Linked DNA regions of Homo sapiens. The protein of the gene in region 2 binds, or shares a complex with, the protein of the main gene of each other region. Each region holds a gene or a part of one and is shown on either strand. Other genes may lie near its edges.

Region 1 (10,549 bases), on a different chromosome or scaffold from region 2:
TTGCGAATGACTTTCAAGATTTTGCTCTGCTGGAGCATTTCTCGGGAGATGTTCAGGGGCAGATCCTCAGAGTCAACCACACCACGGATAAAATCTGCCATCAACCAGGGTGAGAAAGCTCAGTAAAAAACAGCTAGACCAGACCTGGTCCCCAGATTCAAACAGAAGGCTCTAATAGCCTCCTGAACCCTTACACCTACTATGTATTGCAGAAAACTGTTACCTTAGAATATCCTAGCAGAATGCCTAAAACCTCCCAAGACTTCACCCAACTAAATTAGGCCAAGGAGATACTCACTGAGATACTCTGGTATCAACTCATCACAGCTGTCCATGATGAACACACGGCGGACATAGAGTTTGATGTTGTTCTTTTTCTTCTTGTTCTCAAAAAGGTCAAAGGGAGCCCGACGAGGAATAAATAGCAATGCCCTGAATTCCAACTGACCTTCTACAGAAAAGTGCTGAAAGAAACCAAAAATAAGTGGTACATTTCAAAAGAGGACCTTTTAGCCCCAACACCAAATTATCTAAAAGTGGAACAATGATCCTCCCTAAGCCTAAGGGATAGAGCACACACAACAAGCAGCTCCTGAGAAAACTGAGCCTTAATGCCCTCCACGATCTAGATGGGTACTAGCTGTATGTAGAAAACAGTCCCCTCTGATCAGAACCCTGGATGTGTAAGGCTGCCAATAGACATTACCCAGATTTCCATAAGAAGAGAAAGTGAGGTCATTAGAAATGATGGCACTTCACTATGACAGGGTAATCAGTAAGTGAAATCACATGGCTATCACATTTCTGTTATCAGTTGGACAAGTTCCGTGTGTCTATTACCCAACACTCTTCCACCTAACTCATTCCTCTCCATATGTGCATGTTGAGCCAACATGCAAAGGCTTCTCACACCTTGACTGCCAAGTGGTCTTCCCAGTCATTAGTGAGGCTCTTGTAGAATTCTCCATACTCCTCTTGGGTGATGTCATCAGGGTTTCTGGTCCAAATAGGCTTGGTCTTGTTTAGTTCTTCCTGATCAATGTATTTCTCTTTGATCTTCTTAGTTTTCTTCTTCTTATCCTTACCGCTGTCATCCTCCTCATCTGAACCCACATCTTCGATCTTGGGTTTTTCTTCATCATCTTTATCTTCCTCTTCTTTCTCACCTTTCTCTTCCTCTGCCTCATCATCACTAATTTCCTTCTCTCGTTCCTTCTCCAACTAAGTAACAAAAACAGAAGTTAGCCTTGGAGTACAAAACACTACCAGGGAAAGCAAAAGCCAGGGACAATGAGATTCTCCAGAACAGGAAACATCCTGCACGTTAAGTGTAAAAGATTTAAAAGTCCATACTCACATAAAGGGTGATGGGATAGCCTATGAACTGAGAATGCTTCTTCACTACTTCTTTGACCCGCCTCTCTTCTAGGTACTCTGTCTGATCTTCTTTAAGATGGAGGATCACTTTGGTACCCCTGCCAATGGGCTCACCTAGAAGAGTCAATTACAAGCGTGTAACAGGGTAAAAAGTATATGCAGTTGAGACCAGCAATTAGTAAGTATCAGCAGAACTGCTGTGAAGAACTGCTTTACAGACAGGATGCCCAAAATTTCTGCTACTGGTGTGAGCCCAGAAAATCCTAACCCAACTACCTTGTAACAGAAAAGCTAACTTACCATGGTCAGCACGCACAGTGAAGGAACCTCCAGCAGAAGACTCCCAAGCATACTGTTCATCATCGTTGTGCTTTGTGATCACAACCACTTTCTCTGCCACCAAGTAGGCAGAATAAAAGCCAACACCAAACTGCCCAATCATGGAGATGTCTGCACCAGCCTGCCAACAAGTTTAAAGTCAATCACAAGTTTTAAAGAAGCAAAAAACCAAAGAACACAGATAAGTATGAATGCCTACAGAACTGCAATACCTGAAGAGCCTCCATGAATGCTTTAGTACCAGACTTGGCAATGGTTCCCAAATTATTTATGAGATCAGCTTTGGTCATGCCAATGCCTGTGTCTACCAAAGTCAGGGTACGTTCCTGAGGGTTGGGGATGATGTCAATTTTCAGCTCTTTACCACTGTCCAACTTCGAAGGGTCTGTCAGGCTCTCATAGCGAATCTTGTCCAAGGCCTGGAAATACAAACAGCAACTTACTTTTGCTCTTTCCAAGACAGACTCTTGCTCTGTTGCCCAAGCTACAGTGCAGTGGCAAGGATGACAGCTCACTGCAGCCTTGACCTCCCAGGTTCGAGCCATCCTCCCAACCCCAGCTTCCCAAGTAGCTGGGACTACAGGCACATGCCACCGTGCCCAACTAATATTTAATTTTTTGCAGAGACAAGGTCTCGCGGTTGCCCAGGCTGCCCTCGAAATCCTAGGCTCAAGTGATCCTCCTGCCTTGGCATTACAGGTGTGAGCCAACACGCTCAGCCACTTTTGCTTTCTTAAAGCCCGTATCTTCAAAGAAAATCTTGGTTTACCTCTCTCAGCCTCAAATCTGATTGCCCCCTATCTTGAGGCTTTAGAACCAGTTAGTTCCATGAGCCCACTTATTCTGGACATAGTCCCTTCCAAGTTCAAGATGGCCAGAGTAAAACCCATCTTTTTGGAATAGCTGCAAGTTTACCCCCTTCAATAGTAGTCCCCAACAAAGGCCAAACCACTCCTTTCCCCTCCTTCTAGAGTATCAAAAAAAAAAACCATGCCAAATGTGGAAACCAGAGCACCTACATCAGAAGCATTAGAGATCAACTCCCGAAGGAAAATCTCCTTGTTGGAATAGAAGGTATTGATGATGAGGGACATGAGTTGGGCAATTTCTGCCTGAAAGGCAAAAGTCTCCACCTCCTCCTCTCCATGGTGCACTTCCTCAGGCATCTAAAATAAAAATCTCATTAATTACAAAAGAACACTAAGGCCCCATGTTTAAAAATCCTAAAGGTCATATCATTTGTTAGGACCTTAGACAGTGAGTTCAGACTGGTTTAACCGGAGTACTATCCCTTCCCAAGACTAAAAATGCATTCTCTTAAAGATCTCAGACTACACACTAAGTGGGAGGCCTGAAAATTCAGAAGGAAAAAGAAAATAAGCTAAATATTCTTCAACCAAATGTCACAGAACCCACCTACTTAAAGAATGGTGACCAGCAGCCTCAGCATCATCTGGTAGTATGGCAGAAAAATCATAATGTTGGTCCAACCCAGGTATCTAGAGATCCCAAGTAATCCTTACACAAATTTAAATGTGAAAATCACTACCTACAGTTCTTTATTTGGGGGAGATCAAAGTGACTAGTTTAAGATAAAAATGGCACTAACTTTAAACTGCTCCCCCTGAGGTGTCAGTTCCTAAGACCAGTCCAAGGGCGGGACACTCCTGCCCCATAGGGCAGGGAGGAATAACCTGGGATCCATACGATACCCACCGGAGGAGCAATTAAATCCGGACAAAGAATTCTTAAGCCAAAAGCTCCACCACGACCCTTTCACAGCACAAAATTACAGAACAGGACCAAACCCAAGAAAGATGGTGGCCGTAGCCACCAGGCCGACACTCGTCACTGCCGGACATGCGTCGGCCAGGACCACGCGAGGAGGGGGCGCCGCAGTGCACCCTCCCTCGCCCCAGCATCCGGGCACTGGGGCGGGGCGCCAGAATCCAGAAGCTTCCAGAACAATCTCAGCTCTCGAGGAAGGGCGGAGGAAGGAGCCCATGAATCTTCCAGAACCTGCTCCCCTCCCCGCCCCTCCTCCACCGGGACTGCAAGAAAGATCTGGAAGGAGGGAGTATCGGGTGCTGGAGACCGAAAGCTCTCTTCCCACACCGTCAACCCTCCCTCACAGAAACAAAGCACCCAAGAAGGCTTTAACAACGCGTCCGATAAGAGAGGTGACAAAGCCAGTCCCACAAGGCCGTGCTGAGTCACCCGAGCGGGCACCCCCGCCACCCTGCGGTCCCCCTCCGACGCCCCGTAGCCGCGTCCGGAAGTGGAGGGGCAAAAATGGCAGCGTCCCGGGCCGCGCGGCCACCACGTGCAGCTGCCAGCCGCCCACTGCCCCAACCCCACAGCCCACCTCGCTACGGCCAGCAGGCGCCGAGAGAAAGCCCCACCCCCCAAACACACTAGAGAAAACCGAGGAGGACTCAAAAAACCTCACCCACCACTACCCTCACCCTATAAAAATCCAGAGCGTTATCCACAAGCCACCCCGACATCTAGACTAAGGCTCCCTAAAGGACAGAAAAAAACAAAAACAACACGAATACAGCACTAAAGGGAAAGAAGCCTAGCGGAGATCTCAGCCTTACCTTGAAAAGAAAAGGATTATACGTAATAGTGAGCAACGTAGGCTTGCTTTCCGATACCCAGACAGTCCCAACACTGCGCCGGAGTGACTCGAGAGAGCTACTGCGTGCCCCAAGTCGCCCTATATAAGGCGAAGCACAGTACAGCCGCCCTCCTGTAGATCCCTCCGCCTTAAAGGAGTATGATTGTCAACCCCGCACCTGCCGCCACCAGCCCACCTTGACGTCATGGTCCGAAAAAAAGAGGGGGCGGGGAAGAACCCAAGCAACGGATCCGCCCACACATTTGCTTGTGATCACAGCCCCATAGTTTCACGTCTAGGACATGACTCCATCAAGAGCGGGGATGAGGAGTGCTCATTTGGCATAAACGGTGTCTCTACGGGCGAGGAACCCACTGACCTCCCTAAACACTTGTGGGGCAGGCGTCCCCACACCCAAGGGCGGGACTGGGGGGGACACCGAAAAAGAGCGGAGGCAGCTAACCACGCGGACCACCGCTCCCAGACCCAATCTTCTTCCTAGCATCTGCCCTACACATCTCGCGTCCCGACAGAGGGACTGGCATTCGGGACCCAACCTTGGGTAGCCCCAGATCCCGACTCTCGCAGGAGTAGAGGAAGGGCGGAGGGTTCGCGCTGAGGGGCAGCTCAGCGTAGGGGGAGGGCGCCGGCCGGGGCTGGCGGGGACTCTTTGCCGACATGCGGCGGAAGGCGCGGCGGCGGCACTGCGGCATTTCCAGCAGTTTCCAGGCCTGTCTCGGCGGTCCCGCCCCCTCCCCGCGAGGCTCCGCCTCTCCGGCTGCGGCCGGGGCAGGGTTTTTGCAGCGACCCCACCCGGCGACCCGCTCTGACCTGTCCGAGAGACGCGGGTACCAGCCCAATCCTCAGGGATGGGATGGAGGGTTGGGGAGGGATCGGCTGACCCCTCCTTCCCCGCGTCAATCACACAACACCCAGGCACCTGGGGCGGCTCTGCGGGCGTACACTTTTGCAGACTGAGAGTGGAGTACCTGCGGGGGGGACCCCCCTCTAGCCCCTGCGGCCGCCACGTACACGGAGCACGGGGACATGCGCCCTCCCTACGCAGGCACGTCAAGCCCTTTCTCAAGCTGGTTCGCTTTTTTTCCGCCCACTTCGCTCCTGCAGCCATTTGGACCTGGGAAGGAGGGAGTCTCTGGGAACCAGTGCAGGGCAGCCGGAGCTCTTGGAGGCCGCGTGACGATGCCGGCCACAGAGCGGCTGGCCAAGTTGTTCCCCTTCAGCCTTGGCACCAGAGCCCCTAGGCCATGCCCCTGGCCAGTGAGCTGCCGTGTCTGGCCTGGCTCAGCCGTTTTGCCTGCCCTCCAGTTGGCAAGCTGTCCTTGCCTTTCCAAGGCCTCATCCGAAAGCCTGCTGGACCCACAACCCCTCCAGGAGAGAATAGCCACTCCCTGCTCTGTGCCCTGTAGATGTCCATCTGCTCCCCTTCCTGGCCCACCCCTGGGATGCTTGGGAAGAGTTTCCCCACAGCCACCCACATCGTCCTCCCTCACCAGCCCTGTTGTTACCCAGTCTACGATTCGTTAACAAGTTTTGTTCATGTGTTGAATACCAAAGAACAAAGGGTGTCCCTTGCTTTCCTCTTCTTTGTCCCTGTCCACTTCGCCATGCCTGCCATCACCATCCCGATTGGATATCCTTTCTCCCTTTCATTATGGTCTGCAAAAAGCCTATGGCTGGGAGAAGTCTATAAGAAGGGGCGTTGGGTGCTCTATTCCTGACCAAAACCGCAAACCAGTGGGAGCGTGATCCCTTAACGTGTCCTCTCCTTCTAAGCAGAGCTCATTAAAAATCTGCTCCCCAGTTCACAGAGAGCATTCACAAACTCTCACTCTCCTGTGAGCGGATGAAAGTCAGTGTGCACATTCTGTCAACAGGGAAGTGGCTTCAGTGACTCCCAAGGCCCGTCTACTCAGAGTCCTTGCTGCACTAGCTCCCTTTCTGCTCCAGAAATGGAGCAGGGATGTGATCTCACCCCTAGGACCTAAATCCAAAGCAGGAATCACTCCTGTGGATGGGCTTCCCCTGAGCTGGATCCTTTCTGTGTCAAGACTCGACGGCTTCCTGAAGACTTTCTAAATGGGAAAATCTCAAATGTTACACCAGCATAGAAATTCCACTTTCTCTGCTGGGCACAGTGGCTCATACCTGTAATCCCAGCACTTTGGAAGGCCGAGGTGGGTGGATCACCCGAGGTCAGTAGTTCACAACCAGCCTGGCCAACATGGTGAAAAACCTCGTCTCTACTAAAAATTAGCTGGGCGTGGTGGCACATGCCTGTAATCCCAGCTACTTGGGAGGCTGAGGCAGGAAGATTGCTTGAACTCTGGAGGCAGAGGCTGCAGTGAGCTGAGACCATGCCATTGCACTCCAGCCTGGGCAACAAAAGAGAAACTCCGTCTCAAAAAAAAAAAAAAAAAAAAAAGGGGGCTGGGCGCGGTGGCTCATGCCTGTAATTCCAGCACTTTGGGAGGCCGAGTCCAGCGGATCACCAGGTCAGGAGTTCAAGACCAGCCTGGCCACTCTGGTGAAACCTTGTCTCTACTAAAAATACAAAAATTAGCCGGGCGTGGTAGCGCGCCTATAGTCCCCGCTACTTGGGAGGCTGAAGCAGGAGAATCACTTGAACCCGGGCGGCAGAGGTTGCCGTGAGCCGAGATCACGCCACTGCACTCCAGCCTGAGCGACACAGTGAGACTCTGTCTCAAAAAAGAAAAAAAAAAAAGAAATTCCACTTTCTCTTCCAGGAAGCCTTTCAGGAGACCGCCTACCTGTGTCCACAAGCTCCATCGTTTTCCACTCATTGACACTCACTAAGCCTCCACTGTGTGGAGATCCTGGGGATGCAGAGATGCATACACAGGACTGGGAGCCCTTAACCCACTGGAGGCTGCAGCAGCCAAGTGTGAACCATAGGAGGATGGGAGAAGCCGCAGAGGCCCTCAGCTCAGCTTGGGAAAGGGAGCAGTCTTAGGACCATGCCTAGCCAGGCCATGACATGGAAAGCATGGAAAGGAACAGAGCCCCATTAGAGGAACCATAGCTCAGGAACCCCAAAGGGAAGCACAAGGAGTTGAAAGTAGCCCTGCAGATGGGGGTTAGGTCGCAGAGGGCTGCAAATGCCACTGGTAAGAAGTCCTGATCTTAAGAGTGAGAGAAGTGAAGGTTATAAAAGACAGGCTTAAAACTATGTCTTCCAGACTGGGCACGGGTGGCTCACGCCTGTAATCCCAGACCTTTGGGAGGCCAAGGCGGGCGGATCACCTGAGGTCAGGAGTTTTGAGACCAGCCTGACCAACATGGAGAAACCCCGTCTCTACTAAAAATACAAAATTAGCTGGGTGTGGTGGCACATGCCTGTAATTCCAGCTACTCAGGAGGCTGAGGCAGGAGAATCGCTTGAACCCAGGAGGTGGAGGTTGCGGTGAGCCATGATCGCGCTATTGCACTCCAGCCTGGGCAATAAGAGCAAGATTCCGTCTCAGAAAACAAAAACAAAACAAAAAAAAACTACACCGTCCGAAGCCTTATTCCCAGCCTTGGAACCACTGATGTTCCCCAGATCCCTTTTATTCCTCCATGAAACCTCCTAGGCCCAGCCCAACCTTCTGCTGTCGGAGGGTGGCCAGCTAAAGCAGGGATTAACAACCCAAGGTCTGCAGCTGGTGGGCCTGCTGCTTGTTTTTTGAATGGCCTGTGGGCTAAGAAGGGTTTTTACACTTCATAATGGTTGAAAAAAAAATCAAAAGAAAGATATTATTTTGACATGGGAAAATTATATGAAATTTGAATTTCTGTTTTCATGAAGTTTTTTTTTTTTTTTTTTAGACGGAGTCTCACTCGTCTCCCAGGCTGGGGTGCAATGGCAGAATCTCAGCATACTGCGACCTCCACTTCCCGGGTTCAAGCGATTTTCCTGCCTGAGCATCCCAGGTAGCTGGGATTACAGGCGCCCGCCACCACGCCCGGCTAATTTTTGTATTTTTGGTAGAGACCGGGTTTCACCATGTCGGCCAGGCTGGTTTCGAACTCCTGACTTCAGGTGATCTGCCCGCCTCAGACTCCCAAAGTGCTGAGATTACAGTCGTGAGCCACTGCGCCTGGCCAATTTTAATGAAGTTTTGTTGAAACGTAGCCCTTGTCTTTGACTGCTTCTGTAACATAAAGTCAAAATCGATAGGTGTGACAGAGACCATAACGCTTGCAAACCCTAAGACATTTACTCTCTTGCCTTTTACAGAAAACGTTTGCAGACCCCTAAGCTACATAAAGCTCAGCAAAGTCTTGCAGGGAGCACAGAGACTCAGCCTGGACAGAGTCTCTAGGGTTCACAGAGGCCACGGAGGGGAGTTAAATAAAGCTCAGTGAACGAATAAAACAACTGAGGGTAACAGGACATCAGAGATATGAGCATGGAGAGTAGCTGTGGACCCTGAACCCCTAGAACAAGCAGCCTCTTAAGCTCAGTGCCTGCCAGGTGTGTCCCGTTACTTTCTGGGCCTTCCCAGTTCCACGAGCCTTAGCTCTCTGAATTCCTGAGGGAATACCCTGAACTGACACCCTCCAATACTAGTGAGCCTGACATTCAGATGCATTGGACAATTGGGCAGGTCTGCACAGCCAGCATGGACTCCATCTCTTTGCCTCCATTTTCACATTCCACTAGAACACAAGGGAAGTCTCTTGCATAATTTTTGCTCACTGTATTGTTAGTATTGTTATTTTTTTGATGCCATAGAAAATGGAAATTTTTGTTCATTTTCGGTTTCCCAGAGTTCAAAAAGCAATTGAGCAATTGAATTTTTGTTTATTGATTGAGCAAGTTGGTAAGCTAGCTTATTAATTCTTAATTTGACTATAAAAGTTTTGGTGTTTTATAGGTACAACCATATCATCTGAAAACAATGACAGTTTGGTTTCTCCTCTTCTGATTCTTGTATCTCTTATTTCTTGTTTTAATGCACCAGCTAGGACCTGCAGAACAATGATGAGTGGAAATAATGATTCTGGGCATCCCTGTCTGATTCCTAATCAGAAAATGAAAGCTTCTAACATTTCACCATTGAACTTTTTGTTTGTTTGTTTGTTTTTTGAGACAGGGTCCAGGGTCTTGTTCTGTTGCGGGGGCTGAAGTACAGTAATACATAGCTCACTACAGCCTCAACCTCCCAGACTCAGGCGATCCTCCCAGTTCAACCCCCGAAGTAACTGGGACCACCATGCCTGGCTAATTTTTTTATTTTGTAGAGACAGGGTCTCCCTATGTTGCCCAGGCTGGTCTCATCCCAAACTCCTGGGCTCAAGTGATCCTCCCACCTTGGCCTCCCAAAGTGCTGGGAATACAGGCATGAGCCACCCGCACCCAGCTGAACATATTTACTCTTTTTATTCCTAACTTGCTATAAATTAAAAAAAAAAAACAAACACCACCATGTCCAGCTAATTTTTATAATTATCTGTAGAGACAGAGTCTTGTGCTGTTGCCCAGGCTGGTCTCAAACTCCTGGGCTCAAGCAGTCCTTCTGCCTTGGGTTCCCAAAGTGCTGGAATTATAGGCGTGAGGCACCATGCCCAGACTCTTACGATCTTTTCAATTTCTCTTCTATCTAAAGTACGTCTTCTGCCAGGCAAGGTGGCTCACACCTGTAATCCCAGAACTTTGAGAGGCCAAGGTGGGCGGAGGCCAGGAGTTTGAGACCAGCCTGGCCAAAATGGTGAAACCCCTTCTCTACTAAAAATACAAAAATTAGCCAGGCGTGGTGGCAGGCACCTGTAATCCCAGCTACTAGAGAGGCTGAGGCAGGAGGACCCTTGAACCCAGGAGGCGGAGGTTGCAGTGAGCCAAGATCACACCACTGCACTCCAGCCTGGGTGACAGAGTGAGACTCTGTCTCAAATAAATAAATAAATAACATTAAAAAATAAAGTATGTCTTCATTTCTAAAATTGTTTTTCATGTCTTATCTCTTTTTTCTTGTACAATTTCACCAAAGGTTTGCTTATCTTATATTTATATATTTGTTTTTGACTTCTTTAATTTCTGTTTATTTTATTTTATTTTTTTTTGAGACAGAGTCTCGCTCTGTCACCCAGGCTGGAGTGCAGTGATGCGATCTTGGCTCACTGCAACCTCCACCTCCTGGGTTCAAGTGATTCTCCTGCCTCAGCCTCCCTAGTAGCTGGGACAACAGGTGC
Region 2 (10,166 bases):
GAGGAAAATCTTGATGGCAGAGGAGAGAATCTGTAGCAACTATGACTGAAAAGACTGGGCTTAGATCCAAGGAGATGTAGACAATTGGGCCATACTTCTAAGTACACTGAGGATATCATAATGGTGTATGTTTGGTGTGGCCAGAGTTAAAAAGGATACAAACAGCTGGTTCTACAATTCATTTTATATCTTTGATCTTGGTTTGCCTGCCTGCCTACCCTACGAAGTGCCCACCCCTCACCTGGGCTTGAGGTACACGATGGAATGTTCTCCTTTCTCCATGCGCTGAATGGCCCTCTCCAGACCATAAGGCAGATCCAGGTTCTCCCCCTCGCCAATCTCAAAGCGGAGCTCCCGCTGGTCAAAGAGCTTGTCCTTGTAGTACCCTTCCAGTGCAACTGGCATGAAAGAGAGGCAGTGTACCAGAGTTGTAAGAGGGCAGGTGACTGAGGAAGGATGCCATCAGCCTCCCTGCATCACCCCCATCATCCCAAGATTCTCCTGTGTTCTCAAATCTGGAGTGATATGAAGAGAATATGGTCCAACCCCTCATTTTATGGACAAGAAGATAGGCTCGGAGAACGGAAGTGTCTTGCCCAAAGCCACACAAGGCCTAAATATCAGAATGAGAATTGAAAGCCCAGACTGTACTGTCTCACCCTCCACGATAGCACCCTCATTGGGCTTAGCATAGCCTTCACCGCGAGTCTGTATTCTGCGAATGATTCCGCCATCTTCCTCTTCCGTCAGATCTTCTCCCTTAAACTCAAACAACTCCACCTGTGGGACAAGATGTGACACAATTCCTTCCCATGCTAACTCATGGGCAGTGAAACACAATCTTTCTCATCCGAGAGAGTCCCTACTAACTGCCAGGCCGGATCTGACCACAAGGGCAGTCACAAGGAGTTGGGTAGAGTGGCACTTTTTTTCAGTTCTTGGGAGCTGCCCTAATCTCAACTTTGGTAGAGGTGGGCAGACTACATAGATTTCAGTTAAGCTGAGGAGAGCAATCTATTTGCTACCTGCTCTACTAACACGGACATATCAGGACGCGTCCCAGATAATCCTAATTCACACTACCTGATAAGCCCAACCTGGTAGGTATTAGAAATGATTACCCAACATCTCTCAGCAGTTTCTCAGTATTCAAGGGCCCACGGATTGGCTCAACCATTTTCAGATTGAACAATGTCAAGTTCTATCTCCTCAGTGAAGCCTTTTCTCAGCCCTTGACCCACAGGGGAGCTACTGCTCCCTCTTCTGGTCTCTAGAGCACCAATATTCTGTACTGCCATTTATAACGGGACATAGTTTCTGACATCCCGACTCCTTTCAGTATTCTTCTGGGTACCGCTCTGGAGATAAAGATGCCTTAACCCTGACCATGCTTTGAGTCTGGAGAGGGGCTTGTGCCTGCCTCTTCCCACCCGAAGCTTCTATTACTTCCATTACTAGCAGCAGCAGAGCCCTCTGCATTTCTCCTCCCATAAGGCCAGACCCTCAGCCTTGGCTACATTGTCTCCAAGAAGCAGGAAGGGCTGGAGGGCAGCCAGGCATTGGGCTGAGATAAGGCCTGGCTCTTAGCCTGGATCTCAGTGACCAAACACTCACCTCAAATACAAGCGTGGCATTGGGGGGAATCTTTGGAGGACTGCCTGCTGAACCGTAGGCATATTCTGGTTTGCAGGTGATGTGGCACACCTCCCCCACCTTCATGGTGGCTATGGCAATGTCCCAAGCCTTGATGACCTCCCCTGCAGGTACAGAAGCAAACAGGACCGCCTTAGCAGGGTTCTGATTCTGGGCTCAAACAGTGCTCCTGAAGAGTTACTGCACCACACTCATGGGGAAGCTGGACATCCTTTAGAAATGGGACCAGAAGGTGAGGTACCTGGTTGTATTAAGTGCTACCAGGTCTAAGAACTGTAAAAGATCACGTGACCCTGAACAAAAGAGTTTAAGATGCAAGACAGTCCACCTTTGAAGGGGGAGTAAGGTGTTGGGAGGTGATGAGGAGAAGGGGAGACAGAGATCAATATAGTTACAGAACGGTAGAAAAAAAAAAAAAAGAGTGACCGAAAGAGTTAACAGACTGTGATAAACCATTCCTCCCTGAGCTTGGTCCTGAGAAAATGGTTTCTGCTTGTGACAGCTTGTGTCCACCTCGAACCTATCCTACCAGCCCACTGACCACGCCTACCTTTTCCCAGGTCAAAGGAGAATTTGTCCTTGCGATCCAGACTGGAGTCAAACTTTGTGCCATCTAATAGCCAGCCAGTGTAGTGGACAAAGACTCGGTCCCCAATCATGGGCATCTCTGTACCTGTGCCCTCTCTCTTGATGACCTGGGAGGAAGGGGGAGAAAGTGAGTACCCCAGGGTTTGGGGCAGAAAGGGGCACCAGCACTGCCTGCAAGCCTCCAGAGGGAACATAAAGGGACTTCTCTGTGTTCATCCTCCTCTGCCTACTTGTCCCTCCAGATTCAGTTACTAGCAGCTTGGCTTATGAGTCAACTAACCTTCTTGTCTTTCTTGAGGTGCAGCAAGACTTGGTTTGAAAAAGGAGACAAAAGGCTGAGAGATCTGAGTTCAAGTTTCCGCTGTATGGTAAGTTTTTAAAATTCTCCACACTTTATTTGTAAAGCAGTGATGATAATCCCTATCTCCTACAGTTGTTGGAAGATTAGACCAGTAAAAGGTTGAATAATAGATTATTATTATAATCGGCAAAGGGGGAAGTATTTATGCCACACTTCCTCCTTCTTCCTTCATGCCAGTGGTCGTCAGACTAAGGTCTGGTTTGGAGACAGGAGAGCGAGAGGAGTATGAGTGAAGAGAATAGAAACAGTTCAAAACAGGTAAGGAAGAAACCAGGTTATAGGTGAACCCGGAGGCTCTCCATGGGACCTTAAACTCTGACTTGGGAGCTGAGTATTCCTCTGGTAGTTAGTCCAGGGCTGGAGTATTTCCCAGAAACGTAAAGGCTTCTTTAGCGCCACCTGGTAGGTGTGTGGTTACCCTCCAAGGGAAAGCTTCCACGAAGAATAGACAGGGGCTTTGAGGAGTAGAAAGGTAAAAGGGAAGGAATGATGGATCAAAGGGGAAATGAGCTTTCCTGGAATAACAATCTCGTAGAAAACGGCAGGACGCTGGAGCGAGAAGGGGAAGTCACATGCCACAGGAGAGCCGCTGGAGCAGACGCTTGAGGTCCCCAATAATCTGGTGCAAAGACAGATGCACTTCTGGACCAGGTAAAGGCCCCCTGAGGTGGGTGCCGCACACGCGGAGCTCAGCGGTGGGAAGCCAGGATGAGGACGCAGCAGCGGATGGGGAGAAGGCATAAGACGCAGGCTGGGAATTCACCATCTCTGATTCTCCCTGGAACCTGCTCCGACCCAAGGCAGGTTGTCCTGGCCCAGGTCAAGATGCCCTCCCCGCAGCTCCCCAGGCTATTTGTAGTCGAGCGGTCACTCGGCGGCAGGCTCCACAGCAGAGCGCCTCCTCCCCGCCCCACACCCCGCAGCCCTGGCTCCGGGAGGCGGCGGAGGGGGGAGGGGACTACAGCTCCCGGCATGCCCCGCGCCCGGCCTCCCCGGGGCCGAGGGAGGGGGCGCCGCGCGGCGAGTGGGGACCTCGCTGGGTCCCGGCGTCGGCAGGGGACCCCGGGAGGGCGCCGGAACCCTGTCGCGCCTGCGTCGCACAAAGGCCGAAGGGCCAGGAAAGCACTGTGGGGAGTCGCTCCCCGTCCTGGCCCGTGTTCCACCGCCCGGGTGGGCGAGCCCTGGCACCGCCACCAACGAGGCGGCCCGCGGCTGGCAGCTCCGCTGGGGCCGCGAGGTCGGGGGCGGCGTGGCGTGGGAGGCCCGGCCTGGCCCCGGGCTGCGGCTCGGGTGCCCGCGGCGGTCGCCTCGCCCCGCCCCTCTCCGCCGCCCCGCGCGCGCCGGGGTGGGCACTGCAATCCCGACCCCCTGCCCGGGCCCGGGCGCTGCCGGCTGGGGAGCCTGGGGCCTCGGCCCGCGCACCTAGGCCGCCCCCCTGCCGAGCGCATGGCCGGCCTCGGTGCCTTAAACGACGCAGCCCGGTCCGGGACGGCGATGCCACCGGCCCCCGGCGGGACGGCCGCGAGGCTGCAAAGGCGGCCGCCTCGACCCGTGCCCGGCCGCGGGCTCCGGGCGCGGCGGAAGGGCGGCCCGCGGGGCCCCGGGTTCCGACGCCTCCGCAGGCCCCGCCGCCCCTCACCTTCAGCACGCCTTCGTCCTGTTTGGGGCTGATGTCCACTCCCTCCATGGGCAGCGGCGCCGACTGCGCCCCGCTCTCGGTCGCCTTCATCTCCTCGGCTGTCATCTCCGCGCGGCGCGCCGTTTATCCGGGAGCTGGTGCCGGCGCGAGCGCACTCTGGGCCGCGGGCGGGGGCGCTACCTGCGGGGCGTGCGGGAGGCCGGGCGCGGCGGCACTGACTGCGGACCGCGAGGAGGCTTGAGCACCTCTGCACGCGGCGCGAGAGCTGGGGTAGGTGGGTCAGGAGCGGCTCGGGGAGCGATTGGTCCCGCCCCGCCGCGAGGGAGGGGCTGGGAGGAGCGGGAGCGCAGACAGAGGGGGCGGGGTGCAGAACTTTCTAGAGACGGCGGGACTGAGCCGGTTCGGGCTCAGTGCTGCGGGCGCTTCGGAATTTTTTTTTCTTTTTTTTTTTTTGGTTCTTGCCTCCTTCTGGCTGCCTGCCCCCTCCCCCTTCTCCTGGGACCCTCGGACTCGGGATCTCCCCGGCGGCCTCCCTTGGCCCTTCCTCCCTCCCTCCCATCCCCGCCCGCTTCCCTGTCTAACCGGATTCTTCCAGATTCTTCTCGATCGATCTCCCGACATCACTCCACCAGTCCGCTGCGCCTGCGGCGGGGTGTGGGGAGCGCAGGCTGCGGGATGGCAGTGGCGGCGCCCCCTCCCCGGGACCGGCCGTCACCACGGGCGGCGTGGCCTCTCTGCTATGACCCGCGTAGACCCTTCCCTACTTGGGGGAAAGAGGGCAAGGGCGTGCGCGGGGAGCGGGGAGTGAGTGGACAGCGCTGCCCCGCTGCAGAGAGCCGGGGAAAGCGACCTCGATTTCCCCAGATCCGAGAAGCCCCGGCCAGGCAGCGATGCCTCGCTCAGCGCCTGCAGATGCTGCGAGCAGCGGGGTTGGCAAGGCATGGCCCGCCCAGCTCGGAACTCAGATGGGGCACACACTCAGGGGACCCTTCCCGGCGGTAATAAAACTGCCGTTTCCGCGAATGCTTACAAAGATGGGTTCCCCTCACGAAAAAAGTCACTCGGTTTTCCTAAAGGCCCACAGAAGGAGTATTTTCTTCTCAATGTTTGCTTCCCGAGTGTTTTTCGACAGGCTGTGGAGCGCGCAGGTGCCGGTGTCACCTAAGCTATGGTCGTGGGACCTAGAGAGCCATCTAGAGAGGGGCCTGGTTTTGCTCAGCACCTAACCCCAGTTTAGCATAGTGCCTGGTGAGTGATGTCCCAATAGTTACTGGCTGCATGAATTTTCCTTTTTTAAATTTCTTTTTCCAAGTCTTGGCTGATTTTTTTTTCTTTTTTTTTTTTTTTTGAGACAGGGTCTTGCTCTGTCGCCCAGGCTGCAGTGCGGTGGTGCGATCTTGGCTCTCTGTAGCCGGGACTACAGGCGTCCGCCACCACGCCGACTAATTTTTGTATTTTTAGTAGAGACGGGGTTTCGCCATGTTGCCCAGGCTGGTCTCGAACATCTGGTCTCAAATGATCCGCCCGCCTCGGCCTCCCAAAGTTCTCGGATTACAGGCGTGAGCCACTGCGCCCAGCCTGAATTTTTATTCCAATAATAACTGTATTTTTGGACTTCCCGTTATGTGCCCGGCACTGTGCGATTGGACGCCATTAGTCTCATCAAACTAAATTGAAAGCTTTTTAGAGATGAACTTTCAGCGTCATAATGTGATGATTTATTGTAGTCCCTGCCGACGGAACTTGAAAGGGATGCAGAAGAAAAAGCCCTTCGCTTCAGCAATTTACAGCCCAAATGAGTTGAGCCATAATGAAGACGTCTCTTTAGGTGGCTGGAGACAGCTTCAGAGGATACGGGGCGCTGCCTCTGTAGGGGTTAAATCCACTACTTTTATGCAGAAGTAACAGTGCCAGGGGTCACCCAAACTCCGGGAGACCAGGATGGTGGGTGCTGGCTTCCGGGGTGGCAGTTTACCGCAAACTGTCCTTGGCTTGCACCTACTGATTCTCCACGTGTGGCGGTTTCTTTTCTGCGTCTTTTTCTTCATCGGAAGCGGACAGTGTGGGACCCCCCCTTTAATTCTGTTCGGCACGTACATAGTGGAGCCCTTCAGATTGCCTGCCGTTACATTAACACATAGCCTAATACCCTAGTGGAATGAGCATGTGCTTTGGAGTAAGGGACGTTGGGCGGCCCATGTGTTATGTTAGCTGTTTAAATTGGGGCAGGTTAGTTAATCTTCATGTCTCGATTTCTTGTCTGTAAAATAGAGATAGTAACATTTGTAAAAGAGGGTGATTTAATGGTTAAAAAAGCGGGAATCTGTGTATGGTATCTAGCTCAGTCCTCGCCTCCAACTCCGCAGCTGGTAAATAACGGTCGTTTTAGTGTGATCTGATAGGCGCTGCAGTGGAGATGGGGACAAAGGGCTAAGAAAACAGAGGTCTGTGAGACAGGGAAGGGCAAGAGGGCAAGGTTCCCGGTGAGAAGCTCTGTCCCCACACAGTGAAGGAGGAAACTAGGGGACCACAGGCAGAAACTAGGAGAAACCACAGGAGGAAACTAGGGGTCTTGAATCCTGGAGCAGGAACTTACTGTTTCTCTTAGAATATTTCCTGGTCGTTTATGTGATATTTTTCTGATCATAAAAAGTACATATACTGTAGAAAGTGTGCACGTGTTTTAGTCTCTTTCCTCTATCTCCTCACCCTTTCCCCAGGCCATTTAAGTTAGTATTCTCATTAAAGATGTGTAACCGGTACCACTCGAAATTCTTCCAAAATGTCCCCTTTTTTTGCGGGAGGAAGTCAGCACACTTTTTCTCATCCACCTTATCTGTAGGTGACTCCTGCTGGGATCAGAAACTTTGTTTTCGTCACACTGAGCCTCTTAGAGCTGACCTGGCTCAGATCCCAAACTCTGGGCCCATCATTTACACATGAAGACCCCTTGTTTCTACAGTTCATATCTTGACCTTCCTAGGCTGCCAATGCACTTAACATCCAAATAATTGTATGATATTTGGATCGTTCAAAAGACTGAAATGCATATAGGTGTGTGTGTTCATGTATGCATACATGTTATGCAGTATACCAGTACAATGAAAGCTGGAAATCTGTCACCCAGCCTAAGTTAGAATGTTCCCAGTATAATTTGTCAAAAATGTAATGCCAAAAAAAAAAAAAGCCGTTAAAGACCTTTACATATTTTCTTGTTAACTTTGGTGTCTGTTGATTGAGAAAATAGAAACTCTACTGACCAAAAAATACATATTTCTTTCTTTCTTTTTTTTTTTTTTTTTTTTTTGAGACGGAGTCTCGCTCTGTTGCCCAGGCCGGACTGCAGTGGCGTGATCTCTGCTCACTGCAAGCTCCGCCTCCCGGGTTCATGCCATTCTCCTGCCTCAGCCTCCCAAGCAACTGGGACTACAGTTGCCCACCACCATGCTCGGCTAAATTTTTGTATTTTTAGTAGAGACGGGGTTTCACCGTGTTAGCCAAGATGGTCTCCATCTCCTGACCTCGTGATCCACCTGCCTCGGCCTCCCAAAGTGCTGGGATTACAGGCGTGAGCCACCGTGCCCGGCCTCTACATACTTCTTAAAACATTTATTTATGTTAGTGATTTTAGTCCCATTTTCATACAATTTAAAAATAGTAGGCCCCTATGTGAGGCCTGTGCATAGTGAAGACCTGCGTGAAGGTTAAGCTCATGGGCTCTGGATTGGATTCTCCTGGATTCCAATTCCAGCACAAGCTCTTTACCTGGATTCAAATCTCAGCTTCATCATTGAACTCACCGTGTGAGTCCTGGAGGAAGGTTTCCTTGTCCCTAAAATGGCTGTCATGATAATGCCTTTCTCTCAGGGGTTTTCTCTGAAGATTAAATGGGTTATTTATTTTTTGGAGACAGGGTCACACGCTGTCGCCCAGGTTGGAATGCAGTCGTGCATCACAGCTCACTGCAGACTCCGCCTCCCAGGCTGAAGCAAATCCTTCCACCTCAGCCTCTGGAATAGCTGGGACTACACAGGCACAGACCACCATGCCTGGCTAACTTAAAAAAATTTTTTTTGTAGAGATGGGATCGCCCTGTATTGCCCAGGCTGGTCTTGAACTCCTGAACTCAAGTGATCCTCCTTGGTCTCCCAAAGTGCTGGGATTACAGGTGTGAGCCACTGAGACTGGCAATGGGATATTACATGTGAAGTACCTGAACTTGTATATGGTACACAGGGCGTAGGTGAGTGGTAGTGTGTGTGCCACATTTCAGCCTGTTGATTGCTGGAATATGCAGTTGTGTTTTTTGTTTGTTTGAGACAGGCTCTCGAGCTCTGTCACCCAGGCTGGAGTGCAGTGGCGTGAACATGGCTCACTGCAGCCTCAATCTCCCGAGCTCAAGCAATCCTCCTACCTCAGTCCCCCAAGTAGCTGGGACTACGGGTACATGCCACCACACCCAGTAATTTTATTTTTTGTAGAGACGGGGTCTCACTATGTTGCCCAGGGTGGTTTCGAACTCCTGAGCTCAGGTGATCTGCCCGCCTCAGCCTCCCAAAGTATTGGGGTTACAGACATGAGCCACAGGACCCGGGCCTTGGAATACGCAGTTGAAGATGTGGAAGACTCCAGCCCTGAAGTTGAAAGCCACTGGTCTAGATAAGGCTTTGCTCCATTAGTTCCAGAGGAGTGCTTCTCTTCTAATGTTAAATTACATCTGTGCTTTATGCACCTGGACACTTGACTATGAACTTGACTATCTCATGTAACTCACAGTAGCTTCACCTGCTGATATTCTGTCATTCCAACAAGACTGAAAGCCCCTTAAAGGTAGACTTGGTGTCAACACTTCCATGAATCCCACCATTAGCTGATCTCCTTGAGAGGAGGTAATGGGATATTTGGTGGTTGTCCTGCTGAAACAAAGCTTGTTTCCTTTTATAAAATCTAATTTCTTCCTTCTGATAAATACGCATATTTCTGTTTTGCTCTTGGGGAGATAGGAAGTAGCAAATCTTCATCCTACTGTATCTGTGGATGCACTGAAATTTGGCTTTGGCCTGGATCTTCAGAGGGTCAAATAGCCAAAGGTTGATTTCAGCATTATTTCTGTCTTCCTTGAACTTGTGTGTGATCAAGGATCACGTGGCCGGGTGCAGTGGCTCATGCCTGTAATCTCAGCACCTTGGGAGGCTGAGGCAGGAGGATTGCTAGAGGCCAGGAATTCAAGACCATCCTGGGCAACATAGTGAGACCCTGTCTCTACCAAAAACTAAACACAAAATTTTACATATGAAAAAGCATCATGTATGTGTCTAGGTTATTATCATATCTAATTAGCATAACTAGGACATGGATTGCCACTTGGGAAAAATAGTCTGAACGTCCATCATCCTCAGTTGAAAGTAAATGTATATTTAATATCATAAATGTGCACTGCAGTGATCACAAGAGCAATCCAGCAGCTGTCATTATTGAGAAATTAAGACATCATTGTTCCTTCACTATAACATCCAACTTCTATGATCAGTCTGCTAACTTTTAAAAAAGGTATGAATTGTAATAGGAACAATAATTTATTTGAGAGTTCATATTTATTCTTGTATCCTGGAAGTTCATTCTTTGTTGGTAATAGTTTTTGTTTAGTCAGATATTGACTTAAATATGTGTCCCTTTAGCATTTAGCCAAAATGTGTATTCACTGTATCTCTGAGTCTCACTCTTCACATAGGCTCACAGATGAGATGTTACGTAGCCCTTCTCTCTACGAGTAGCCTCCTCTGGGGGAGTTATTTTGGTTTTTCGTTGGGTTTACCTCCTCAGGTTTAATTTTCTCATGGGAAGAAAGGTTGCTGGAAGCCCTGGCCAGGGGTGGGGATTCTCACATAGATTCCTGGATAGACCAATCTGTCCCTCGTTAGACTC

Evidence for each region.
Region 1: the proteins of FKBP4 (region 2) and HSP90AB1 are in contact, whole or in part, in a crystal structure (PDB 1QZ2), measured with the Homo sapiens proteins. Residues at the interface, in NP_002005.1 of Homo sapiens: Lys282, Asn324, Met327, Lys354, Arg358, Lys387; in NP_001258898.1 of Homo sapiens: Met720, Glu721, Glu722, Asp724.

Annotation. Positions count from the first base shown.
Region 1 is NC_000006.12:44,240,963-44,251,511, reverse strand, and holds the start of HSP90AB1 (heat shock protein HSP 90-beta), read right to left. Parts: upstream 4,412-10,549; 5' UTR 4,317-4,411; intron 3,570-4,316; exon of another isoform or gene 3,433-3,569; intron 2,896-3,432; exon of another isoform or gene 2,883-2,895; coding exon 2,736-2,882; intron 2,136-2,735; coding exon 1,929-2,135; intron 1,838-1,928; coding exon 1,678-1,837; intron 1,492-1,677; coding exon 1,358-1,491; intron 1,222-1,357; coding exon 913-1,221; intron 465-912; coding exon 299-464; intron 95-298; coding exon 1-94. UniProt on the Homo sapiens protein: Molecular chaperone that promotes the maturation, structural maintenance and proper regulation of specific target proteins involved for instance in cell cycle control and signal transduction. Undergoes a functional cycle linked to its ATPase activity.
Region 2 is NC_000012.12:2,789,320-2,799,485, reverse strand, and holds the start of FKBP4 (peptidyl-prolyl cis-trans isomerase FKBP4), read right to left. Parts: upstream 4,517-10,166; 5' UTR 4,347-4,516; coding exon 4,242-4,346; intron 3,546-4,241; exon of another isoform or gene 3,118-3,545; intron 2,610-3,117; exon of another isoform or gene 2,540-2,609; intron 2,349-2,539; coding exon 2,204-2,348; intron 1,758-2,203; coding exon 1,615-1,757; intron 781-1,614; coding exon 660-780; intron 399-659; coding exon 242-398; intron 1-241. UniProt on the Homo sapiens protein: Immunophilin protein with PPIase and co-chaperone activities. Component of steroid receptors heterocomplexes through interaction with heat-shock protein 90 (HSP90).